Linked DNA regions of Homo sapiens. The gene in region 1 interacts genetically with each later gene. Each region holds a gene or a part of one and is shown in the gene's direction. Other genes may lie near its edges.

What was found.
Region 2: changes in TBCB (region 1) and FBXW7 are lethal when combined (synthetic lethality), as found in Homo sapiens cells (one study listed by BioGRID).

What each region holds. Positions count from the first base shown.
Region 1 is NC_000019.10:36,113,215-36,130,013, forward strand, and holds TBCB (tubulin-folding cofactor B), read left to right. Parts: upstream 1-2,253; 5' UTR 2,254-2,346; coding exon 2,347-2,460; intron 2,461-2,555; exon of another isoform or gene 2,556-2,714; intron 2,715-2,826; coding exon 2,827-2,970; intron 2,971-7,495; coding exon 7,496-7,592; intron 7,593-8,312; coding exon 8,313-8,504; exon of another isoform or gene 8,505-8,959; intron 8,960-12,236; coding exon 12,237-12,309; intron 12,310-12,453; coding exon 12,454-12,568; 3' UTR 12,569-12,727; downstream 12,728-16,799. Other genes in the region: OVOL3 (putative transcription factor ovo-like protein 3), read left to right, coding at 239-447; POLR2I (DNA-directed RNA polymerase II subunit RPB9), read right to left, coding at 541-603, 801-852, 963-1,037, 1,125-1,198, 1,445-1,499, 1,584-1,642.
Region 2 is NC_000004.12:152,323,093-152,331,930, reverse strand, and holds part of FBXW7 (F-box/WD repeat-containing protein 7), read left to right. Parts: intron 1-1,062; coding exon 1,063-1,199; intron 1,200-2,145; coding exon 2,146-2,259; intron 2,260-3,541; coding exon 3,542-3,723; intron 3,724-5,699; coding exon 5,700-5,925; intron 5,926-7,536; coding exon 7,537-7,747; intron 7,748-8,781; coding exon 8,782-8,838. UniProt on the Homo sapiens protein: Substrate recognition component of a SCF (SKP1-CUL1-F-box protein) E3 ubiquitin-protein ligase complex which mediates the ubiquitination and subsequent proteasomal degradation of target proteins.

The sequences.
Region 1 (16,799 bases):
CCTCCCTCTCCATCCCCCAGGGGAGGGAGCATCCTGGTGAGGGAGAGTGGAGACACAGGTGTCTGGCCCATGTCTGCACTGGGTGACGGTAGCAGATGGTGGGTCATGGGCGGAAGAGTCTGAAGAGCTTGGAATAGGTACCAGAAATGCTCAACACTGGAAAGCAGGGTGGGGGCGCTTTAGTCCAGAGCCCATTGCCCTCTCTGTCCAGCCCTCCCCTCTGCGCCCATCTGTGCAGGGATCCGGCCCTTCCGCTGCAGTGCTTGCGGGAAAGCGTTTACGCAGCGCTGCTCCCTGGAAGCTCACCTTGCTAAGGTGCATGGACAGCCGGCCAGCTACGCTTACCGTGAGCGCCGCGAGAAGCTGCACGTGTGCGAGGACTGCGGCTTCACCAGCTCCCGGCCCGACACCTACGCACAGCACCGCGCCCTGCACCGCGCAGCCTGATACGGTGTGCCAGCGTCCTCCCCACGAGGCAAATAAACACAGAAAACTCACGCATGGAATCTGGTGTTTATTACACTCGGGGGAGAGAGGAGGTCACTCGGTCCAGCGGTGGCCGCAGTGTGGGGCTGTGCACACGTAGTAAAGGCGCATGGCGTCCTGGCAGAAATGATGCATGGTTAGGAAGGATTTGGACCCAGCAGCGCCTTACCCCAAAAGAACAGGCAAGAGAACTTCACCAATAGGTAAGGGCCCGGCAGAGTTCCAAGAAGCGCAGGGTCACCCACATTGATATCCCCGCCCCCAGAAAGGACCAAACAAGCCCCAGATACTTAGAAAGCCCTCGCGCCACTTACCTCGGCCCGCGCACTGTGTGACTGGAAGAACACAGCCTCCTTGTGGCCGCACCTGAGAGGGTAGGGGCTCGGTCACCGGAGGCTTCACACCCTTCCCTCCTCCCTTCGCCCAGTGAGGAGACGAGCCTCACTTTACCTCCCCAGTACCAGCTGAACGCTCACTTTTGGCACGGGTGGTCCTCGGTCCGCGGCAACGTGGGGTCCTGGGACACGTCGGCGATAATCTGGGTCAGTTCGCTGCAGGGACGCGGGGGTGCAAAATTACGCTCAGACCCAGCCTCCAGAGCCAACACCCCCGCCCCCAGCTCAGGGCCCGCCACTCACTCCACTTCGTGCGTGATCTTGTTGACATAGATGCAGCTGTTGTCGGCCTCCTGCTGGTAATCACAGTTCCGGCACTACGAGAGGGCGAGTGTGGGGGAAAGGGGGTCACGGAAGGATTCCAGACAAGATTGGGAGGAGAGGGCAGGGTGATCCCGGAGGATATGACGACAGGACTCTCTTTGGGGATGGGCAGGACATGAGAGTCAGGATCACTTGAGGTGCAGCGGAGGGCGAACAGGGAGTCCGATCACAGAGGCAGGGGGCAGGGCGGGGCCACGCTGGGAACAGGTGGACCTGCCGGGGAAGACCCCGGCGCTCACCGCGTAGAGCAGAATGCGGTTCTCCTTGTCTTCCTTGGGGTACAGCATGTTGTTACTGTGGGGAGGGGGAGGTGCCAGGGGTTAGTTCTGGAGCCATTCCTCGCCCGCCTTCTAACATCACCCGCTCCCTCCGCCTCACCATTCCTGGCAGAAGCGAATACCCACGAAGCCCGGCTCGTAAGTCCCGTCGGGCTCCATGGCGACGCGCAGCCCGCGCAGCCCTCCCAGCCTTCCGCGCTTGCTCCGCCGCGCTACAGGTCGCGGGAGGGGCCAGGCCTAGGTGCTTCGCCAAAAGAGGGCGGAGCTGCGCACACGTGCTGGCTCCCCGCCGCCTCGGGCTCGGCTCTCTCCGCGCAGAGGTTTCATGGCTTGCTTCAATCTTTTGATATCTTAGAGTAATTGCTTCCAATTTTTGGGCATCGCCGCCTCAGTTTACAGAATAGTATGGATCTGGTGCCAGAGCCGGGAAAACGATGCGCATCGTAAACCGCAAAACACTGAGCATCCAGGACAGAAGCCAAGGCGCTTGGCTTGGTTGAAGGCCAGTGCGCATGCGCGAGTTTACCCTTCGCGGACTGGGCGAGCTCTTGCCACTCCTACCTCCGGGCTTCAGTCTTCGCCGCCTGTTCTGGTCCTTTCCCGGGCCGCTATTGGAAGAACCGTGAACTATGGAAGGCCCCTCTGGATTGGCTGGGCTGGCCCAAGAGTAAGGAGAGCCCTCTTCCTGGCGGTGGGGAAGGGACGGCGGCGATTGGCGGACGCTCCTGGCAGGAGAGCGCGGATTGGTCAGGCACGGAGCAGGAGGCGGGGCTGATAGCCCAGCAGCAGCAGCGGCGGCGGCGGCTGCGGAGCGGGTGTGAGGCGGCTGGACCGCGCTGCAGGCATCCGCAGGGCGCGGCAAGATGGAGGTGACGGGGGTGTCGGCACCCACGGTGACCGTTTTCATCAGCAGCTCCCTCAACACCTTCCGCTCCGAGAAGCGATACAGCCGCAGCCTCACCATCGCTGAGTTCAAGGTGTGGCCATGGGGGCGGGGTCCGGAGGGGCGGGGCGAAGAAATTGGGGGGTTCCCGGAAGGGGGAGGCTGGGAGGGGCCGGGGAGTGACTGGGCGGGCCCGGAGGTGATCCCAGGCTGCGGAGGCTGGGGACCCGGTCGCGGCGGGGCGGGTCCGGAGAGAACTCGAGAGTGCAGAGATGAGGGCCGGGTCCAGCGAAAAATCCGACGGTCCAGAGGGCGGGGGCAAGAGGCGAGGGGCTGGATTGCGGCCCCGTGCGTCCTGACTGGGGGGTCTTTTGGAGGAAAAGGGACGTGGCGATGGTCATTGATGCAAGGGGCGGGGCCTCCGTGGCCTCCTTCTTCTCACCCTGCCTCCTCCTCACAGTGTAAACTGGAGTTGCTGGTGGGCAGCCCTGCTTCCTGCATGGAACTGGAGCTGTATGGAGTTGACGACAAGTTCTACAGCAAGCTGGATCAAGAGGATGCGCTCCTGGGCTCCTACCCTGTAGATGACGGCTGCCGCATCCACGTGAGGACTCTCTATCTGGGACACTCCCCCACCCCACCTTTCATTTGGTTATTCAACAGACACTTGCTGGGCTTTGCCCTCAGTCATACCCGAGATAGGTCCTGCCTTCGTGGAGCCTCCAGTGCAGCCTGACGAGAGACAGACCCATCATTAGACAGGGACAGCCTAGAGTGGTCTGGGCTGGGATCAGGAAATCCCAGGGGACTGGAGCCACCAAGAAGAGGTGCCTGACTCCACCTGGGAGAATCAGAGAGGGCTTCCTGGAGGAAGGGATGTCTGAGCTGAGGGATGAGGAAAGGGTGACTTAAGAGAAAGAGGTGGAAAGGAGGGAGCAGGGTGTACAGAGGCCTAGAATGTGAGGTAGGTCACAGTGAGCGACCAGGCTGGACAGCTTGGGAGAAACCAGAACACAGGATCTCTTTGTGCATCCACTCAGTACATCCTTTCTGTCTTTTTTTGAGACAGAGTCTCACTCTGTCACCCAACCTGGAATGGAGTGCAGTGGCACTATCGGGCTCACTGCAGCCTTCACCTCCTGGGTTCAAGTGATCCTTGTGCCCCAGCCTCCCGAGTAGCTGGGATTACAGGTGCCCACCCAGCTAATTTTTGTATTTTTAGTAGAGATGGGTTTTTGCCATGTTGGCCAGGCTGGTCTGGAACTCCTGACCTCAAGTGATCAGCTCACCTTGGCCTACTAAAGTGCTGGGATTACAGGCGTGAGCCACCAAGCCCAGCCCCTTTCTGTCCTTATTCCCTCCCGACCTCACTCAGTCTGTAGCAGCCACATTGCTCCTTGCACAGTCCAGGTGAGCTCGGCCTCTGGATCCTGGGCCTGAATGGTTCTTTTGTCATATGCCTGCGTGCCTCACCCTTCCTTCCTGTCTTAATTTAAAGTGTCAGTATTCTAGTGAAGTCTTCACCGGCCTCAGTGTTAACGTTTACCTCATTCCTTTCCCCTTCTTTGCTTTATTTTAGATTTTTGTGTTTACAAGTAATTCTCCTCTGACACACTCTGGATTTCTCTCATCTGGTTTATTTACTCTCTGTCTCCCTGGATTCGAGTGCCCTGAGGGTGGAAATTTTGATCACTATAATTCACTACTGTGTCCCCAGTACTTGGAATAGTGCCTGGGACAGGGAGGATAGTCCGTGAATCGTTTTTTGTTTTGTTTTGTTCGAGACAGAGTTTTGCCCTTGTTCCCCAGGCCGGAATGCAGTGGTGTGATCTCAGCTCACTGCAACCTCTGTCTCCTGGGTTCAAGCTATTCTCCTGCCTCAGCCTCCCAAGTAGCTGGGATTACAGGTGTGCACCACCACGCCTGGCTAATTTTGTAATTTTGTATTTTAAGTAGAGTTGGGGTTTCACCATGTTGGCCAGGCTGGTCTTGAACTCCTGACCTCAAGTGATCTGCCCACCTCAGCCTCGCAAAGTGCTGGGATTACAGGCATGAGCCACCACGCCCAGCCCTGTGAATCATTGTTGAATGATGAATTGAATCCATAAAGTAAGACCACAAGGATAATGTAATTATCCCCATTTTGCAGAAGAGAAAATTTAGCTTCAGGGTGGAGTTTATTTATTTATTTTTTATTTTTTTTGAGACAGAGTCTTGCTCTGTCTCCCAGGCTGGCGTGCAGTGGCATGATCTCGGCTCACTGCAACCTCCGCCTCCCCGGTTCAAGCGATTCTCCTGCCTCAGCCTCCCGAGTAGGTGGGATTACAGATGCCCGCCACTACACCAGGGTAATTTTTGTATTTTTAGTAGAGACGGGGTTTCACCATGTTAGTCAGACTGGTCTCGAACTCCTGACCTCAGGTAATCCGCCCACCTCGGCCTCCCAAAGTGCTGGGATTACAGGCATGAGCCACCGCACCCGGCCCAGAATCTACTTTCTTAAGGATGAACTGTCAGTAGCATTTTGGCCCCAGTCTACATGACTCTAGAGAGAACTGCTTCTTTTTTCTCTCGTTGATTAACTGTTCATTCCCCATCTGTGTTGTGCCAGGGGTTTCATTATGACTGCATCTGAGAAGTTCTAGTGTATGAGGCAGATGTTGGCTAAATGGCCAGAGGACTGAATGTGAAGGGTCAGGGGAGACAAGGGTTGTGTAGGAGATCATGAAGCTGGGAGACCCTATCCTGGGGTACCTGATGCATCAGTGACGTCTGGGAGGACATCCTGGAGGTGGTGCTGCTGGAGCAGAGACGAGAAGAATAAAAAGAATTGGTCGGGCATGGTGGTTCACGCCTGTAATCCCAGTGCCTTGGGAGGCTGAGGTGGACAGATCACTTAAGGTCAGGAGTTCGAGACGGTGAAACCCCGTCTCTCCTAAAAATACAGAAATTAGCTGGGCGTGGTGGCAGATGCCTGTAATCCTAGCTACTCAGGAGGCTGAGGCAGGAGGATCACTTGAACCCAGGAGCTGGAAGTTGCAGTGAGCTGAGATCACACCACTGCACTCCAGTTTGGATGATAGAGTGAGATCCTATCTTTAAAAAAAAAAAAAAAAAAAAGGTTAACTGAAGATGGGGAAGGGGTGCCCTAGGAGTGGGGCACAACCCAGCAAACACTCCAAGGTGGGAGGGAGCGCGGTGGGGATTAAGACAGGCCACTTCTGTGGCCAAACACTGTGGAAGCTGGGGAGGACCCTGACCTGGCTCAGGTGTTCACAGGCCCCCTCTGGCTGTGTGTGGGGAACAGGTGGTGGAGGACAGGAAGAGTAGGGAGACCAGGAAGGGGCTGCTGTGAGAGTCCTGATGAGGGGACGAGGTCTGGAGCTGTGGGTCAGGCCTCTGCTGGGTGCACAGGACTGAGCCTTTGGGCCACCCTGGGCAGCTGAAGCTAAGGGGTGCGGGTGTTCATAGGCACCTCATAGGCAGTGGCATCTTTGAGCAGGTTTCATAACAGGCGGTTCAGGTACACACAGACCTCCCAGGCCACTCAAGGAAGGTGTTCCAGAGTGGAGCCACTGGGGAATTTTTACATTTTCTAAAATTCTTTTTCTCTTTATAAATATCACCCATATTCATTGTTTAAAATAACAGAACTTCAAATTTGTGAAAATTCTCAACAGAAATTCTCAGTGACGCTTCATCCGGAGGTAAAGGCCATTCCTATTTTGCCATGTTAGCCCAGTGGCTTAGGCCAGACACCTCAGGGTGTTCCTTGGGCCCGCTCTCTCCCTCACCCCCACATCCACTCTCATCAAATCCTCTCGGCTCCACCTACAAAAACTTCCCTGACCCTGGTCCAGCCTCCATCCTTCCCCCAACCTCGCCATCCCGGCAGCTTCCTCCCTGGCCTCCCCGCTCCCCATCTCAGCCAGAGGGAGCCTGGGACCACCTGAGTCAGGCCAGGGCCCTCCTAGCTCAGAGCCCTGCCCTGGTGGCACTTCGCTCCAGATAAAAACCAAAGTCTAGGCCAGGTGCGGTGGATCGTGCCTGTAATCCCACCCAGTACATTGGGAGGCTGAGGTGGGAAGATCACTTGAGGTCAGGAGTTCTAGACCAGCCTGACCAGCATGGCAAAATGTCGTCTCTACTTAAAAATACAAAAATTAGCCGGGTGTGGTGGTGTGTGCCTATAGTTTCAGCTGCCCGGGAGGCTGAGGCAGGAGAATCACTTGAATTTGCAGTGAGGCAGAGGTTTCCGTGAGCTGAGATCACACCACCACACTCCAGCCTGGGTGACAGAGCGAGACTCCGTCAAAAAAAAAAAAAAAACCCAAAGTCTCCAGCAGTCCCTTGTGTCTTCCACTCTCCCTCTGGCTCGCTCCACCCCACCCGCACCACCCACTCTAGAGCGTGAAGGACATTTCTACCTCTGGCCGTCTGCACCTGCCGTTCTTGCTCATCTTTCCAGCCTTGGCTGAAACATCCCCTCTTTTGGGAAGCCTACCCTCCCATGCTCCTTAAGCCTCTTCCCTGTCATATTTTTCTCCATAGCCATCCTCCAGTGTTTCATAGGTACCTGTTCCTTTGTTTGTGGTTGGCCTTCTCCCTGCACAATGAGCACAGCCTGAGGGCAGAGTGCGTCTGTGTTTACACTGAGTCCCCAGCATGAGGCCCAGCTGGGCCCCTGGGAGCTCGGAAACCAATGAATGAATGAATAGTGGGGGCAGAACAGGAAGAGATGCTCTGGGGCCTGAGGTTGGGGCCAGCTTAGGAGAGTCCCAGAGGCCCATCGAGGAGATGCGCTGTGCACAGGGCTGTGGGCAAGGCCTGAGCTCTGCCGGTTGGACTCTGTGACTTTGGGGCCCTTGGCGATGTTGATGCCAGCAAGCGGGGAACTTCTGGGGACAGAGGCAGCCTCTGGGAGCTTGGATGGGGGTGAGGAAGGGGAGGTGGCCAGTGTACGTAGCTACTTCTCCCTTCCGCTGGGCTCAGGAGAGAAGAGAAGGCTGCAGTACAGGCGAGGGAGGGAGATGCGTTTTTCCCAGATGGAGACACTGAAGTCCCTGCACCCAGCACCCAGGCCTCCCTGGCCAGACCCTGATCCCCACGGAGCCCCTCCCCTCACACAGGTCATTGACCACAGTGGCGCCCGCCTTGGTGAGTATGAGGACGTGTCCCGGGTGGAGAAGTACACGATCTCACAAGAAGCCTACGACCAGAGGCAAGGTACGGGCAGGTGGGCGTCGAGGGGTGCGTGGGGGCCAGAGGGAGTATGTGCAGGTATGAGGGCGGGCAGGTTAGACAGGGCCCCTGCAGGGAGGCCAGTGGTGTAGACGGGGGGCCGAGAGCTTGGGAGGATATAGGGGTGAGGCTGGGAGTGGGGACAGACGGAGGCCTGGGGTGGGAATGAGGGCCGGGAGGTGTCAGGGGTATGGGCAGTCAGACGTGGTCGGGGGAGGGCTGGGAAAGTGGAGGGAGTTGAGGGGTAGGTGTGGGGGCTGGGTGTTGTCAGGGTCAGATGGGGGCATGGGGCGGTCGGACGGGGTGTGGAGGGCAGGACAGGTGGAATGCGAGTGGACAGGGTGGCGGTCAGTGAGGGCGCCTGGGACGGATCGAGTGTTGGGGGAGACCGGGGGCCTCAGGGCCGGAGGAGGGCGGAGGAGGAAGGCGGATGATGAAGGCAGATGTGCGCTGAAGGGGTGAGAGACCATGGGTCCTGTAGTGAGGGGTGCAGGCGGCACCCCTTCCATTTACGATTGTGGAGTTGGGGGGCCTAGGAGTCCTGGGAGAGGCTAAGGCTGTGGTGGGAGACCTGGGGCTTGGGTGACAGCCCTTTGTCACCTGGAAGAGAGAGTTCCTCCGTGAACGTGGGCCCCTCGTGGGTGGAGCGTCATCCTGTTAGGCCCGGCCGACACCCCAACTGACCCCAGCCCCCTCTGCCCACAGACACGGTCCGCTCTTTCCTGAAGCGCAGCAAGCTCGGCCGGTACAACGAGGAGGAGCGGGCTCAGCAGGAGGCCGAGGCCGCCCAGCGCCTGGCCGAGGAGAAGGCCCAGGCCAGCTCCATCCCCGTGGGCAGCCGCTGTGAGGTGCGGGCGGCGGGACAATCCCCTCGCCGGGGCACCGTCATGTATGTAGGTGCGTGGCTCGCGGGCCCGGTCCCGGGCTCCAGGGCTCCAAGGCCGGGAGGAAATGTTGGGGGCACAGTGGAGCCTCGGAGACCACGCTCTGCCTAGGGGCGCGGGGTTGGGGGGGACTCGAAACGATCTCAGTCCCTGGAGGTGACGGAACCATCTGCCGACACTGACGGCCCAGAGTGTTTGTGGAGGGAAGTGGGAGGCGCAGGCGGAGTGATCTGTCCAGCGAGGGAGGAAGCAGAAGCCAGAGGCACGCGGCCTGTGCGCTTCGAAGCGTGGGGCAGTGTCAGTCGCGGTGGGGAAACGGGCGGCGTGACCAAGGCAGGAGTGAGGGAACACAGGGGGCTGTGTGAGCCCAGAGGAAGCACCTGGAGGCTGGGAGCATCTGAAGGAAAGGAGGCAGCAGCCAGGTGAAAAGGGAGGAAGAGTTCCCGCCAGAAGGAGTAGCGGGTGCAGGTGAGCAGAGCGCAGGAGGTCCACCTGGGGAAGGGGAGCGGGAGGAGAGGGGAGAAGTGTAGTCAGGGGCATGGGCAGGGCGGCGTCACAGTGGAGAGCAGTGTGGATTTTTTTAAAAAGAACAGGCTAGGCATGATGGCTCACGCCTGTAAACTCAGCACTTTGGGAGAACAAGGTGGGAGGCTTGCTTGAGCCCCGGAGTTGGAGGTTACAGTGAGCTATGATTGTGTCATTGCACCCTAGCCTGGGCAGCAGAGAAAGACCCAGTCTCAAAAAAAAGGCTGGGTGCAGTGGCTCACACCTGTAATCCCAGCACTTTGGGAGGCTGAGACAGGAGGATCACTTGAACCCAGGAATTTGAGACCAGCCTGGGCAACATAATGAGACCCTGTCTCTACAAAAAAAAAAAAAAAAAAATCCCACAAAACTTTTGTCAGTTGTGGTGGTGAGCACCTATAGGTGCCCCAGCTACTTGGGAGGCTGAGGTGGGAGGATGGCTTGAGCCCGGGAGTTGAGGCTGCAGTGAGCTATGATCGCACCACTGCACTGCAGCCTGGGTGACAGAGGGAGACCCTGTCTCCAAAAAAAAAAAAAAAAAAAGATACACGGGGTACATATATGTATTGTTACATGGGTGTGTTGCCTGCTAGTGGGTGGGGACCGGGCTTCTAGTGTACCCATGACCCAAATTGTGAACATCGTACCCAACAGATAATTTTTCAACCCTCACCACCCTCCTGTTTCTGGCATCCCCACTGTCTGGTATTTCCGTCTTTATGCCTGTGTGTACCCATCCCCCAGTCGTCTTCAGCCACTAATTTACGTCTGTCTCTAATTTGCCGATTCTGGATGTTTCATAGGAATAGGATCATGCAGTCTGTGGCCTTTTGTAACTGGCGCCTTCCACTGAGCAGAATGCTTTCAAGTTTCATCCGTGGCATGCCTGTGTCAGTGCCACACTGTTGCCAAATAGTCCTGCATTGAGCGCCTAGACCACAGTGTATCCAGTCACCAGTTAGTGGACATTAGGGTCATTTCCACTTTTTGGCTATTATGAATAATGCTGCTATGAACCTTCTTCTTTTTTTTTTTTTTTTTTTTCTAATTTGAGACAGCATCTGGCTATTGCCCAGGCTGGAATGCAGTGGCACAATCTCGGCCATTTCAGCCTTAACCTCTTGGGCTCAAGCCATCCTCCCACCTCGGCCTCCTGAGTAGCTGGGAATACAGGTACTCATCACCACCCCCGGCTAAAGTTTTGTGGTTTTTTTTGTAGGATGGGATTTCGCCATGTGGCCCAGGCTGGTCTCAAACTCTTCCCGCTCAAGTGATCGTCCTGCTTCAGCCTCCCAAAGTGCTGGGATTACAGGTGTGAGCCACCATGCTAGGCCTGAACATTCTTTTATAAATTTCTGTGTGGCTGGGCATGGTGGCTCATGCCTGTAATTCCAGCACTTTGGGAGGCCAAGGTGGGCAGATCACCTGAGATCAGGAATTTTGAGACCAGCCTGGCCAACATGGTGAAACCCCATCTCTACTAAAAATTCAAAAATTAACTGGGCGTGGTGGCGGGTGCCTGTGATCGCAGCTACCCGGAAGGCTGAGGCAGGAGAATCGCTTGAGCCTGGGAGGCGGAGGTTGCAGTGAGCCAAGATCACACCACTGCACTCCAGCCTGGGCAACCATGCAAGACTCCATCTCAAAAAATAAAAAATACATTTTTATGTGGACATTTGTTTTCATTTCTCTGTGCCTAGGAGTGGAATCCCTGGGCCACATGGTAACACTGTGCTTGACTTTTTTGAGGACCTGCCACACTGCTTCCCACAGCCGCTGCAGCAGTTTTCATTCCCGCCAGCAGTGCAGAAGGGTCCCATTTTGTCCTCATCCTCACCAGCACTTTAGTCTGTCTTTTGCTTACAGTCATCCACTGGGTGTGAAGTGGAACATCATCATGGTTTTGATTTGCACTTCTTTGGCAGCTAATGATGTTGAGCATCTTTGCATGGCCATTTGTGTATCTTCTTTGGAGAAATGTCTATTCAGATCCTTTGCCTTTTGTTTTTTGACACACAGTCTCACTCCGTCACCCAGGCTGGAGTGCAGTGGTGCTCTCAGCTCACTGCATCCTCTGCCTCCCGGGTTCAAGCAATTCTCATGCCTCAGCCTCCCGAGTAGCTGGGATTATAGGTGAGCGCTACAACACCTGGCTAATTTCTGTATTTTTAGTAGAGACAGGGTTTTGCCATGTTGGCCAGGCTGGTCTCAAACTCCTGGCCTCAAGTGATCCACCTGAGCTGGTGGATCTCCCAAAGTGCTAGGATTACAAACATGAGCCACTGCGCCCATCGGTATGTCGGGGTTTGGTTTTGTTTTTTTTCTTTTGAGACGTAATCTCGCTTTGTGCCCAGGCTGGAATACAGTGGCATGATCTCAGCTCGCTCGTTCCAACCTCCGCCTCCCGGGTTCAAACGGTTCTCCTGCCTCAGCCTCCCGAGTAGCTGGAACTACAGGCGCCCGCCACCACACCCGGCTAATTTTTTGTATTTTTAGTAGAGACGGGGCTTCACCGTGTTAGCCAGGATGGTCTCGATCTCCTGACCTCGTGATCCACCCTCCTCAGCCTACTAAAGTGCTGGGATTACAGGCGTGAGCCACCGCACCCGGCCAGTATGTCATCTTTTGAGAAGTGTGTGTTCATGTCCTTTGGCCATGATCGTGGCTCACTGCAGCCTCAACTTCCTGTTGCCCACTTTGTAATGGGATTTTTTTTTTGCAAAGTGGGTGTTCTTTGAGTTCCTTGTATATTCTTCTGCTCAGTTTTTCATTGGGATGCTGTCTTTTGTCGCTGAGTTGTGTATTAGTTTGCTAACAAAGTACCACTCACTGAGCAACTTAAAGTTATTTCTCACAGTAATGGAGGCTAGAAGTTCAAGATCAAGCTGTCAGCAGGTTGGATTTATTCTGAAGCCTCTCTCTCTGGCAAGGCAGTAGTGCCATCCCCCTTAGGTTTTTACAAAGCCCTCACTGGCTGGTGTCTTCACCCAGTGAATGGGGGACAGGGGTGGAAGCAGGGACACCAGTGAAGTGGCTACCATATTAGTCCCGGCAGGAGCTGGAGGTGGTCCTAGTGGTAGCAATAGAGGTAGCAAGAAATGGTTTTCACCAAGACAGGCTTCTACTCAATGGGTAGGCATGGATCCAGGGTGATCCTGAAATTTCATGGGGATTTCTTCTATGTCCAGAAGCTTCACAGGGATTTCTCTTCTGTTGGCAGGTCTCACAGATTTCAAGCCTGGCTACTGGATTGGTGTCCGCTATGATGAGCCACTGGGGAAAAATGATGGCAGGTAACAAGAATTCCCACTCAGGTGTCTGTGTGTGCATTTGTGTGTAAGTCCATGCGTGCTGCTTGCTGAGCTGCCCATGCCAGCTTCTAGAGTGGAGCCATGTGAGGGTCCTCTGACCACACCCACCCCTATCCTTTCCTGCAGTGTGAATGGGAAACGCTACTTCGAATGCCAGGCCAAGTATGGCGCCTTTGTCAAGCCAGCAGTCGTGACGGTGGGGGACTTCCCGGAGGAGGACTACGGGTTGGACGAGATATGACACCTAAGGAATTCCCCTGCTTCAGCTCCTAGCTCAGCCACTGACTGCCCCTCCTGTGTGTGCCCATGGCCCTTTTCTCCTGACCCCATTTTAATTTTATTCATTTTTTCCTTTGCCATTGATTTTTGAGACTCATGCATTAAATTCACTAGAAACCCAGAAAGTATTTAGAGGACTTCATGATTTGGGGACCCACTGGGTAAATAGTGGCCCTTCGGTATCAGGGGCCAGCCTCTGTCTCCTCATATCTTGCTGTTCCCCCATCTTCTCATCATTCCCACCTCATCTGCTGTAGCTACCAGGAAGAAAGGGAAGGGAAGGGAGGGGATATCCTTTGCCTTTAAAAATGATGTACAGCCAGCTGGGCACGGTGGCTCACGCCTGTAATCCCACACTTTGGGAGGCCAGGGCGGGTGGATCACGAGGTCAGGAGATCGAGACCATCCTGGCTAACACGGTGAAACCCTTTCTCTACTAAAAATACAAAAAAATTAGCCGGGCATGGTGGTGGGTGCTGTAGTCCCAGCTGCTGGGGAGGCTGAGGCAGGAGAATGGCGAGAACCTGGGAGGCGGAGCTTGCAGTGAGCCAAGATCATGCCACTGCACTCCAGCCTGGGCGACAGAGCGAGACTGTCTCAAAAAAAAAGATGTACAACTCTGGCTGGATGTGGTGGCTCACACCTATAATCCCAGCACTTTGGGAGGCCGAGGCAGGCGGATCATGAGGTCAGGAGATCGAGACCATCCTGGCTAACATGGTGAAACCCCATCTCTACAAAAAATAAAAATAAAAAAATTAGCCAAGCATGGTGGCGGGCGCCTGTAGTCCCAGCTACTCAGGAGGCTGAGGCAGGAGAATGGCGTGAACCCGGGAGGCAGAGCTTGCAGTGAGCTGAGATCACGCCACTGTACTCCAGCCTGGGCAACAGAGCGAGACTCCGTCTCAAAAAAAAAAAAAAAAAAAAAAAAAAAAGATGTACAACTCAGCCAGGCACAGTGGCTCATGCCTGTAATCCCAGCACTTTGGGAGGCCGAGCTGGCAGGTCGCTTAAGCCCAGGAGTTTGAGATCAGCCTGGACAACATGGTAAAACTTCATCTCTACAAAAATGCAAAAAATGAGTCAGGTATGGTGGCGCATGCCTGTAGCCCCAGCTACTTGGGAGGCTGAGGTGGGAGAATCACTTAAGCCCAGAAGGTCAAGGCTACAGCGAGTTATGGCACCACTGCATTCCAGCCTGGATGACAGAGCAAGACCCTGTCTCAAAACCAAAAAAAAAGAAAAGAGGCCAAGCACGGTGGCCCACGCCTGTAATCCCAGCATTTTGGGAGGCCGAGGCGGGAGATCGAGATCATCCTGGCCAACATGGTGAAACCCTGACTCTACTAAAAATACAAAAATTAGCTGGGTGTGGTGGCGCGTGCCTGTAATCCCAGCTACTCAGGAGGCTGAGGCAGGAGAATGGCTTGAACCCAGGAGGTGGAGATTGCAGTGAGCTGAGATCGTGCCACTTCACTCCAGCCTGGGGACAAGAGTGAGACTCCGTCTCAAAAAAAAGAAAAAAAGCCAGGCATGGTGGCTTATGCCCATAATCCCAGCACTCCGGGAGGCCGAGGAGGGCAGACCACTTGAGTTCAGGAGTTCAAGACCAGCCTGGGCAACATGGCAAAAACCCTGTCTCTACAAAAAATACAACAACAACAAAAATTAGCCGGGTGTGGTGGCACGCACCTGTAGTCCCAGCTACTTGGAAGGCTAGGTGGTAGGATCACTTGAGCCTTGGGAGGTAGAAGCTGCAGTGAGCTGTGTTCACACCACTGCACTCCAGCCTGGGTGACACAGCGAGACTCCATGCCGTGACACCAGCACGTGGCGTGTCACATTATTAAGGATTATACAGCCAACAGTTACTGGGCTGGTTTCCTTTAATCCTCACAGCAGGCCCTGTCCGCAAGTCTTTCACCGTTTCCCGTCAACACTCCACCTTTCCTGCCCAAAGTTTGGGGTTGGGAGGGAATTCCCAGGGGTTCCCAGGACTTGGGCTCGCCTCCCAGATCCCGCAACCTTTGCGTGCCTAGCCTCGGCAATGACCGCCCATCTGCCACGAGGGGGCGGCAGCGCACCGTTCAGACGCTGCGCCCCTGGTGCATTATGGGTCGCGTAGTCTCAAAGGTGGCATAAGCATCCTGGAACGCAAACGGCATTTCCCAGAAAACTACGCGACAATCTGAGCCTGGTCTTGCCCAGAGCTGGAAGCTGAGGTCTCGCCCCTGCCGGCGTTGCGGGGGATTGTGGGATGTAGGCATTTGGCTCCGCGCTCCGCGAAGGGCGGTGCAGCGCAGGCGCGGGCATCCGGTACAGACAGCCGAGCTTAATCTGAGGCGGGGAACCAGCGTCCCGGGGGAGGCGCCGAAGCTGACTTTCTGGCCGCAGTGGAAGTGAGGCGAGCGAGCTCCCTTAGTGGCTGGAGCCGGCTGGGCCTCCTTCCTGTCCTCCTGCTTTCCTGCATCTCTACTTGTCCCTTTCCCCGGGCTCCTGGTCCGCTCCCAAGCCTGTTCAAGCACGAGGCGTTTCCATCTAAAAAAAGAAAAGAAATCTCTTTTGCCGGGCGAGATGTCAGAGCCCCGGGAGCGAAAGTGTTGGTAATGTTAGACAGAATGAGTTCCTCTTCAAAAATCTAACTTCCTTGTCCTTTGCTCTATGAACTGTCCTTCCTGCAGAAACTGCCCTTACCGGGGAAACTGCCCCTCCCCGCCGCTGCAACCCATACCCCGCCTCTATTAGAAATAGGCAATCGGAATCAGCTTAGATTGTGAGGTCCAACCCTAGCCAACGGGGGTTAAAAACCCCTGCTCTCCTTTATTAGGTGTGCTTTTGGTACAGGTCTGGGCAGCACGCTTCTGCAGAAGTAAACTTTGCCTTGCTAAGAAACTTTTCTCCGAGTGCTGGTCTCTCTCTGTGGCACCAAGAACTTATTTCTAACAGTAAGAAGAATTTACTGAGGACAGCGTAGGCTTGAAAAAGAAAAGTTTTACTAGAAAGAATGCTGCCGGGCACTCACGCCTGTAATCCCAGCACTTTGGGAGGCCGAGGCAGGTGGATTGCCTGAGCTCAGGAGTTCGAGACCAACCTGGGCAATACAGTGAAACCCCATCTCTACTAAAATACAAAAAACTAACTGGGCATGCCAGCATGTGCCTGTAGTCCCAGCTACTTGGGAGGCTGAGGCAGGAGAATTGCTTGAACCCAGGAGGTGGAGGTTGCAGTGAGCTGACATCATGCCACTGCATTCCAGCTTGGGTGACAGAATGAGACTCCATCTCAAAAAAAAAAAAAAAAAAAAAAAATGAAGGAAAGAATGCTGCAGGCCAGGCAGGGTGGCTCACACCTGTAATCCCAGCACTTTGGGAGGCCGAGGCAGGCGAATCACCTGAGGTTGGGAGTTCAAGACCAGCCTGACCAACATGGAGAAACTACTAAAAATACAAAATTAGGCGGGCATGGTGGCCCATACCTATAATCCCAGCTACTTGGGAGGCTGAGATAGGAGAATCGCTTGAACCCAGGAGGCGGAGGTTGTGGCAAGCCAAGATCACACCATTGCACTCCAGCCTGGGCAACAAAAGCGAAACTCCATTTCAAAAAAAAAGAGCTGATTTTTTTGTTTGTTTTTTAGACAGCGTCTTGCTCTGTTATCCAGCCTGTGTGTGATCCCGGCGGTGTGATCTGAGCTCACTGTAGCCTCAACTTCCCGGGCTCAAGTGCTCCTCCCACCTCAGTAGGCCCCATGAATAGCTGAGACTACAGGCACATGCCACCACACCCAGCTAATTTCTGTATTATTTGTAGAGGTGGGGTTTCGCCATGTTGCTCAGGCTGGAGTGCAGTGGCACAATCTCGGCTCACTGCAGCCTCAGGCTCCTGGGCTCAAGCAATCCTCCCACCTCAGTCTCCCAAAGTGCTGGGATTCCAGGTGTGAGCCACTGCGCACGGCCAAGAATAAAGATTTTAATAAAGTAATGTGAAATTAACATGAAAAGCCAATAAGGAAACTGGGCAAATATTTGAAAAGACAATACATAAAAGAAACACCAATAGCCAAAAAACCATGAAAGCCAAGTTCACCCCCATTCATATTTGAAGAATGTTACATAAAATATTGAGACACCACCTTTTGCCTGTCAAATCAGGAAAGATGTTTATTTTTATTTTTTATTTTTGAGACAGGGTCT
Region 2 (8,838 bases), on another chromosome or scaffold:
CAGTTAATAAAGGTTTGAGGTAAAGATCCAGGGTGCTTGGTTTGTCATCCTGCTTTTGACCTCTGTAGGGCTTGGATTAATCAGTGAAATCTTCATTCTTAAGTATTTGCATACATAAAGTGGAATTAATCTGTGCCTTCCCTTCTTCCATATAATCATTTTTTAAATGATCTTTTAAAAATTGTGATAACATGTATGTAATTTATCAGTTTAACCATTTTTATATGTACAGTTCAGTGGCATTAAGTACATTCACATTGTTTTGCAACTACCATCTGTGTTCAGATTCACTACCATCTGTGTTCAGAACTTCATCATCTTCACATGAAACTCCATGCCCCCTGTTCTAACTCCCCATTATTCCTCTCCACAGCCTCTGGCAACCACCCTTTTACTTTCTGTCTCTATGAGTTTGACTACTCTAGGTACCTCATATAAGTGAAATCATACAATATTTTTCCTTTTGTAATCAGCTTATTTCACTTAGCATAATGTCTTCAAGGTTCATCCATGTCATAGCATGTGTCAGAATTTCCTTTATTCCATTGTGTATATGTATCTAATGCTACATTTTGTTTATCCATCTTTCGATGGACCCTTGGATTGCTTGCACGTTTTAGTTACTGTGAATAATCCTGCTATGAGCATGGGTGTACAGATGACTGTTTGAGACTCTGCTTTTAATTGTTTTGGTTATGTATCCAGAAGTGGAATTGCTAGATCATATGTTAATTCTGTGTTTGTTTTGGGGAACCACCAGACTATTTTCCACAGCAGCTGCACCATTTGCACAAGCATTCCAATTTCCTCACATCTTCACCAACATATTTTAGAATCATTTTGAGAAATGAAATAGTGAATACAAAAATATGCCATATAGAATGTAAACTTTACATTATTGCTACATACTGTGATAACAGTATTGGAAATTTGACAATGTCTTGCATTTCAGTGGTTTTGAGCAGAGAGATGGAATACTCTTTATAAAGATGGAATACTTTATAAAATGTATAACTGTTATTATTGGTGAAGGCAATTTACTCTTGAACTGTAACACTTTAGGGATTGATGAACCATTGCACATCAAGAGAAGAAAAGTAATAAAACCAGGTTTCATACACAGTCCATGGAAAAGTGCATACATCAGACAGCACAGAATTGATACTAACTGGAGGCGAGGAGAACTCAAATCTCCTAAGGTAACTGAACTCTGCACAATGTAACAGAAACCGTTAATCAGTGTTAGTACCTAGTGTACTATTTCACTTGGCAAACTGTATAATATGACACTCCTCTTCTGTAGAAAGAAAACCGTATATTTTAAAATAACTGAAAGTATTAACTGACAATATTCTTTTATTGCTAATTTCTCTAATCTGACAACTAATTGTGCTTGAATAAAAGATAAGTTAAATTGAGTATCTTTTTATCTTACGTAAATGAAAATCTCTCAATATCCTATTGAATTTTACTGTGTCATACACATTCTACCTAAGAATTTGCTGCCTCCTCTGATCACATACTCCAAACATGATTTTTTGAGGAGTGTCTGTGTTTTGGATTTGGTGACTTTTGTGTGTCTTATTTTTACAAATTGAAGCATAATTCTGGTTTTCTGTCTAATAACATTTCAAATACATAAAGAATGGTAAAAACACTTGAAATTATTGGGCGTATTTTTACAACTGGAAAAAACCAATTTGGGGAGACATTGTTATACTAATATGTATATATTATGATTTTTTTTGTTTTAAGAATGCTAATAATTGTTACTCTTTGTGGTTAATAGATGCTTATTTTGTTCTTGTGTGTCAAAGTTGTAAAAATTAGAGGCATATTCTTCTGGTTTGAACAGATGGAATAGATTATTGTCAAATACATTGGTGTTTGAACCATCTTTATGAGGTCTTGATGCAGTAAAACTTTAATAGTTGATGTTTTGAGTATAAATAATAGACTATGGAAACAATAAAATGTTTAATTCTGGATTCGTCAGCCAGGAAAAATAATGCTTTATATAAATTTAAATTCTAGAGATAGACTACAAATTACTGTTCCTGTTTATGCCTTCATTTTTCTCTTCACCAGTATTTTAAAGAACATAATTTAATTAACATATTTCTAATCTGCACATCTTTCTTATAGGTGCTGAAAGGACATGATGATCATGTGATCACATGCTTACAGTTTTGTGGTAACCGAATAGTTAGTGGTTCTGATGACAACACTTTAAAAGTTTGGTCAGCAGTCACAGGCAAAGTAAGTTTACTCTTCCTACACTTCACAAAGTCATAATTTTGTGTATATCATTGCAAGTAGCAACTGGAAAAAAGAAAACAATAATTCATTTTTGATTCTTAGTTATTTGGATAGCAAATATCAGAGCTCATAACTTAGCTTTTTTCCCCATATTTATGAAAGCCAATGGCATGAGGATAGTGATGCTTCTCATGATAGAGGTTTCATTAATTTTTTTTCATTTACATAGTTTGTCTATCTTTGTGACAGATACTTTAACATTTTCAAGGGTGCTTTATGTTTTTCTTGGCTCAATTTTTCCCCACTTTTATTTACTATCTAAGTTATACCTCATTACTTTGTAATGTTTTTCAAAAGTATGGTTGAGGGATATTTATTTTTCCTTATAAACTGCTTTGTTGATAACCTACCTGTAGTTTAGAACTTAATAAATCATGTTAATTTATACTTATCTCAAACCCTTGTGAGATGAGAGTGGACAAGGCATTTAAATGTTAAGTTTGAAGAAAAAGCCCAAGCAATCAGCTTGACTGTGTACCATATCATACCTTAATGATTCTCTAGTGAATATTTATTTTTATCTGTCCAGTAGAGAATATTTTCATGAATTAAGTAATTGCCACCTAAAAAATAACAGAAGAGAGTATGAAAACAAAAAAAAATCCATGTCTTTTAAAATGTCTTTTACCATGTTGCTTCTTGGCAAGTATCTTATAAATATTCCAAGTCAGATGTTAAAATTTTTTAAAGCAGCTTTATATTTCCATAGTGTAATATTAGTTTGGGATTTATTACAGGGCTTTAATGTCTGTCTTTACTTGTCTAGAAGTAGCTTCACTGGCTCCTAACTACTGCCCTGGGGCAGATTCAGATGAAATGTGGTATGTAGCCACACCCAATACTGTTGGCATACTTTCATTGAATCTATTCCCATGGAAGAAACCCAGTTGCAATTTCAGTATTATTTCATCAAAGAGGCCAGGCCAGAGCTATCATAACTGCTTTCATGTCGTGTTTCCTTTTTATTATATCATGTTTTATATCATATGTTTGCTTTCTACATACTACATACACAATTGCTTGTGCTTATATAAATTTATAATGCTTTTGAATAAACAAAACAATAAATAGTGATGGGATCATTTTATACGGATGTAATATTTTCTGAAGAGCCAAACAAATTAAATAAGTAACTTTACTCCAAATTTTAATGAGCTATTAAATTTTATTTAAATCACTTTTCCTTTCTACCCAAAAGTAATCATCTTAAGTGTTTTTCCAGTGTCTGAGAACATTAGTGGGACATACAGGTGGAGTATGGTCATCACAAATGAGAGACAACATCATCATTAGTGGATCTACAGATCGGACACTCAAAGTGTGGAATGCAGAGACTGGAGAATGTATACACACCTTATATGGGCATACTTCCACTGTGCGTTGTATGCATCTTCATGAAAAAAGGTAAGGGAAAATCTTGTCATGGTTGGGACTTCTTCCTCTATTATTGGTGAATTTGGGCCCTTTCTGTGTAGAGTTACTGAAATAGTGACAGTGTGCTCTTAAATTAGATTTAATTATTACACTTCAGATGTTTCTATTCTAGGAAAGCCATAGCGTTTTGTCTTAAAATTGGTGATTGTCTGTAAATTTCCTTTCTCATTTGCTAGTGTTGTCAGCTTCCTGTTTGAAACTCTCTACTCTCTAATCTCTAATCCTTTTTGTTGTTCTGTATCTTTGATGACTCATCATATTCAAGCAGAAATCATGTTTTCTCTCTCTTTTTTTGATATTCTTATTTCCGCAAGTGGGACAAATTCAGGCTTCAAGCGTCTGAGCCTTTTTAAATTACCTACCCACCTTACACCCACCCTATCTCTAAGTCTAGGCAAAAGCTGAGGCCTGTGGGTAATTTGTTCTCTCATTCTGAACTATTGTCACAGCTTTCTAACTTGGTTATCTTATGTTTTATACAGCTGACATATAGTCCTTTTATAATTATGATAGTGTCACTGCCCAGTTCTTAAGTCTTTTTGAGCCTACTGTTGACTAACGAATTAAGGAAGAAATCCTCGATCCAGTTTTCAAAATGGTTTCTGCCAAACTGGACTTTTTGACTTTCTCTTCTCAGTGCCTTTGCTGTTGCTTTTATCTCCTCCTGTAAAGCCCTCCTATTAAAATCCTATCTTTCTATTATCGTCATCATACCCCTGTTAAACAAGTGTGATTTCTACCTCATTTGTCAAAAAAGGTCTCTCTGAAAGGTCCTTACAGTGAATCCATGGCAGTCTTTACCTTTAATTCTGTCTATCGCATCTTCTTTATTAAGAACAATTACATTAAGCAGATTTCACACCAGATTTGTAATATGTGAAAAGGAGTACCTTTTCAATTGTCATTTACCTCTACTTTGAACAGTGTGCTATACTGTTAAAATTTGGGGGATGAGTATCAAGAGACCTTGTATTCCAGTTTCCATTATGTTCTCTCAACATTAGGTTCTCAATTAAAGGGTTCTCTCAACCCTTTAATTATCTACTTTTTTAAAATATGGAAACTGTGGTATTTCTTTATCTCTTCAGAATGACATAAGGATACCTGAGTTTTCAGCTTTGTTTTGTAATCCAAAAGTGATTACAGTATTTGTATATTGCTCTGGTTTTCAGAAGAGTATAGCGCTGATGTTGAACCAAATGTTTAAGGGATAGCCATTGTTTTTAAAGATGTACATATCTTTTAAAATCTTTATCTCTTAATATTTTTATAGCCTATTGCATATTTATAAATCTAATCATTAAAAGCATAAGCAGCCTGTGTTTGAGGACATGTCTAAAACTGGTTAATTTTTACTGGAATGTATAGTGTAAACACAAATCTGCAGCTGTTTAAATTCCAAATTCTGACTTGTTTTGTTGTATAAACTTTATTGAATTTTTTACCTAATCACAAGGGAATATATGCATTCATAATTGAAATTTTGGAAAATGGCAAAGAACATAAAGAAAATTTAAATTCTTTAAACCACTACCACCTAGAGTTCTCCCATTAACATTTTATACATATGCCCACATTAACATTTTATTTCTAAAATCAAAATCTTATTGTATATATTTAGAGGCAGCTTCTGCTGCTTTTTAAAAAATACAGTACAGTGGTTTTCAAACTCAGTCCCACAGAACCTTAAGGTGCTGAACCTAAGGTCCCCAGGTCAGGGAACCAAGCATGCAGCATTCTAGGCTTCCCAACTTCCCATTCCCTTATTATGTTTATATACCAAGGTTTTACATAGGATTTCTTTTGAAAATGGTTGTTGCTGTGTAAAAAAAAAAAAAAAAAAGCTAAAAAACCTTGACTAAATCTACCATGTTTTCTCATATTATTAAAAATTCTAAACGTGGGTTTTTTTGTTTTGTTTTGTTTTTCTGTTTCTCCCTCTGCAGAGTTGTTAGCGGTTCTCGAGATGCCACTCTTAGGGTTTGGGATATTGAGACAGGCCAGTGTTTACATGTTTTGATGGGTCATGTTGCAGCAGTCCGCTGTGTTCAATATGATGGCAGGAGGGTTGTTAGTGGAGCATATGATTTTATGGTAAAGGTGTGGGATCCAGAGACTGAAACCTGTCTACACACGTTGCAGGGGCATACTAATAGAGTCTATTCATTACAGGTAAGATCTCTTATCTCTCCCTTAAATGCTCTCCTGATGAATCATAAGGTTGTTTTACTCAGATAATCACTGTCAAATTGCTGATCCAGTACAGTCCAAAAAAGATTAATCAGATTATTCTGCTGTTTTTATATACGTTAAAATTGGCATGAAGAAAGTGTAAATTTCAAAATTATTTAAATGCTTTCAATTTTCTGTGATCTATTTCTCCTCTAAATACAAATATTTGTTTTGCAACCTGACACTTTGGGGCTCTAAGTTTTGCTATGTTAATTAATGGTTAAATAGTCTCATAGGAGAGTAACCTGGATTTTAAGAAACTCCTTTGCAGAAGATTAATATGGCCAAAAGCTGCCCCTTTGCTTTGATAGCTGAAAGTTGATGGACCATGTAATTGTGATTCCATCCCCATTCAAAGTGGAAATAGATCCTTTCTGCATAAAGCACTCTACTGTCCCAGGCCCACTGATTTGTAGTCATAAAGAAGTAAAGTTGACTAAACCGATTTCTTTTTTTTGGTTTATATTTCAAGCCCATATCCTTGAAAACATTGCCATATTTTGAGATCATTAACTAGATGAATAGGAAGTTTAGAATATGAATCTTGTTTTATTTCCAGAAAGGCAACATTTTTAATGTAAAAATATTTCCTATAGCTTATATAGTTTATTTACCAGTTATTACCCATTAATGTTCAGCAAATTAGTACATAATCTTAGTACTGTCAATTCTGTTCTTAGGATATTTGTTTCTTTGTCAAAGGGATATTGTCCATGTCATGAAATATTGACAATATGATAAAAATGTTTGCTAAATTAGAAAAGGTGATGAATTTGGAGGAAGGGGAATTGGCTGCACCTGTTTCTGATATGTTCAGAAGCTTAATGAATATAATATTCTAATTTAAATAAACTGTTTGATTGAGAAAAGAGGTAGCCACATTATTGTTTAGAAATGATAGACTGTTATTGACTTTTGGTGTAGCTGGGAAGCTGGAGAAGAGGTAGTATGTAGTTTGCTTTTGATTTCAAAATGCCACCTCTTCTGATTCCAGATACAATTATCTTTTGGCACATTTCCTAATTAGCATTAGGTTCTTATAAATGAAATTTTATTTTACACACAGTTTTTAATGGAACTTACTTTTGAACATCACGAAAGTTATCTCTAGCCCTTTTCATGCCTTAGGTGCTGATAAGCATTCCGTTTATCATAAGCTATGTCATTAGTCTCAGCTTCCTAGTGGGAAGTAAAACTCATAGCAATTCTCTCAGTCATCCATGATATATAGCTAGGTGGGGCCAGATGATTTGAAAATTAACATATTGTTCATTTTAGGTGCTTTGTTTTCATTTTAAGTTGTTTCTGCATCTAGTTTGAAGCTGCTTGGCATAAAGATGAGCCTTTCTGATAGAAGTGTGTGAGAACATACATTGTAGAGTTGCTTGATGGCATGCACTTTATCCTCATTGCCACTTTATCTTAGTACCTCATTTTGTTCCTGGCATTACCTGTTTCCCATCCTCTTCCCCCTTTCCTACTAGGATTAAGGTCAGTAATTGATAGGAAGAGTATCCATACTTCTATTCTAATAAACTGTGTCTTTTGTAGTTTGATGGTATCCATGTGGTGAGTGGATCTCTTGATACATCAATCCGTGTTTGGGATGTGGAGACAGGGAATTGCATTCACACGTTAACAGGGCACCAGTCGTTAACAAGTGGAATGGAACTCAAAGACAATATTCTTGTCTCTGGGAATGCAGATTCTACAGTTAAAATCTGGGATATCAAAACAGGACAGTGTTTACAAACATTGCAAGGTAAGTCTTACTCACCTTTCGTTTTGTTCATTAAAAATGAGATCATTATTCAAGAGAAATATGGAGCCTTAGCATCACAAAAAGAGTCAACCTCATACAGAATGGTTACTTCAGAAAAGTTTATGAATATTTTCACCCTGACTTACAGAACTAGTCTACTCTTGAGGAAATGTTTTAAACTGTGTTTTTAATATGTAATATAAAATTGTTTAATCACTTCCTGCATGTTCAATTGACTCTACTTAACCTTTAAGAACAGTGAGAAGAAAGATCTTGGCTATATCATAGAAGCAACGTACTCATTATATTTTTTGATTGACCATTGCATTTTGAATTTGTAGTCCAATTTTAAAGGGCTACCTTATTGAAAAAAACAACAGCATCCTTGATAGAAAATTTATTTGGCCTCCACTTAGTCACGTGCTTAACTGGAATGGAGAGGAATAATAGTGCCTACTAAAGTAGAGAAAGAAACAAGTGAAAATCACTAATATTAGATGAGGTACAGCAGTGCCTCATGATTAACTTTTTCTATTTGTTATAGCCCTTAGAAAGTGTTTTTTTCAGTGGGGCCATCTGATAGGCAACATTGCAGCTTTTTACTCATTGGTTTTGTCTCTCCTCAGAGTTTTGGAATAGTGACTGTTCAGCTTTGAGTGGTTCATGGTGGTGGGGTAATAGATCTCTTAGTGCTCATTTGTCCATCAGCAGAAGGTATGAAGTTGCACTATCTACATCCTCACCAAGGAATGCTGTCGTTCACACAGCCAGAAAATAAGATGTTTGTCTGGTAGCTAACCAAGCTTCTTGGAAGACAGACCTCTTGAAAGTTAATGTTTCAGTTACAAATCACTACCAGATTTTCTTACATCCATGCTGATCCTAAAATACTGAGGACATGGGTTTCTAAATATGTATCATTTCAAATGTTGCATTTATTGTATGTTCTAAAGTAGAAGTCTACAAATTATAATGTAACTAACTCATAGCCATTATTTCTAACCAGTAATTAAATTCTTTTGGTTTTTGTCTAGGTCCCAACAAGCATCAGAGTGCTGTGACCTGTTTACAGTTCAACAAGAACTTTGTAA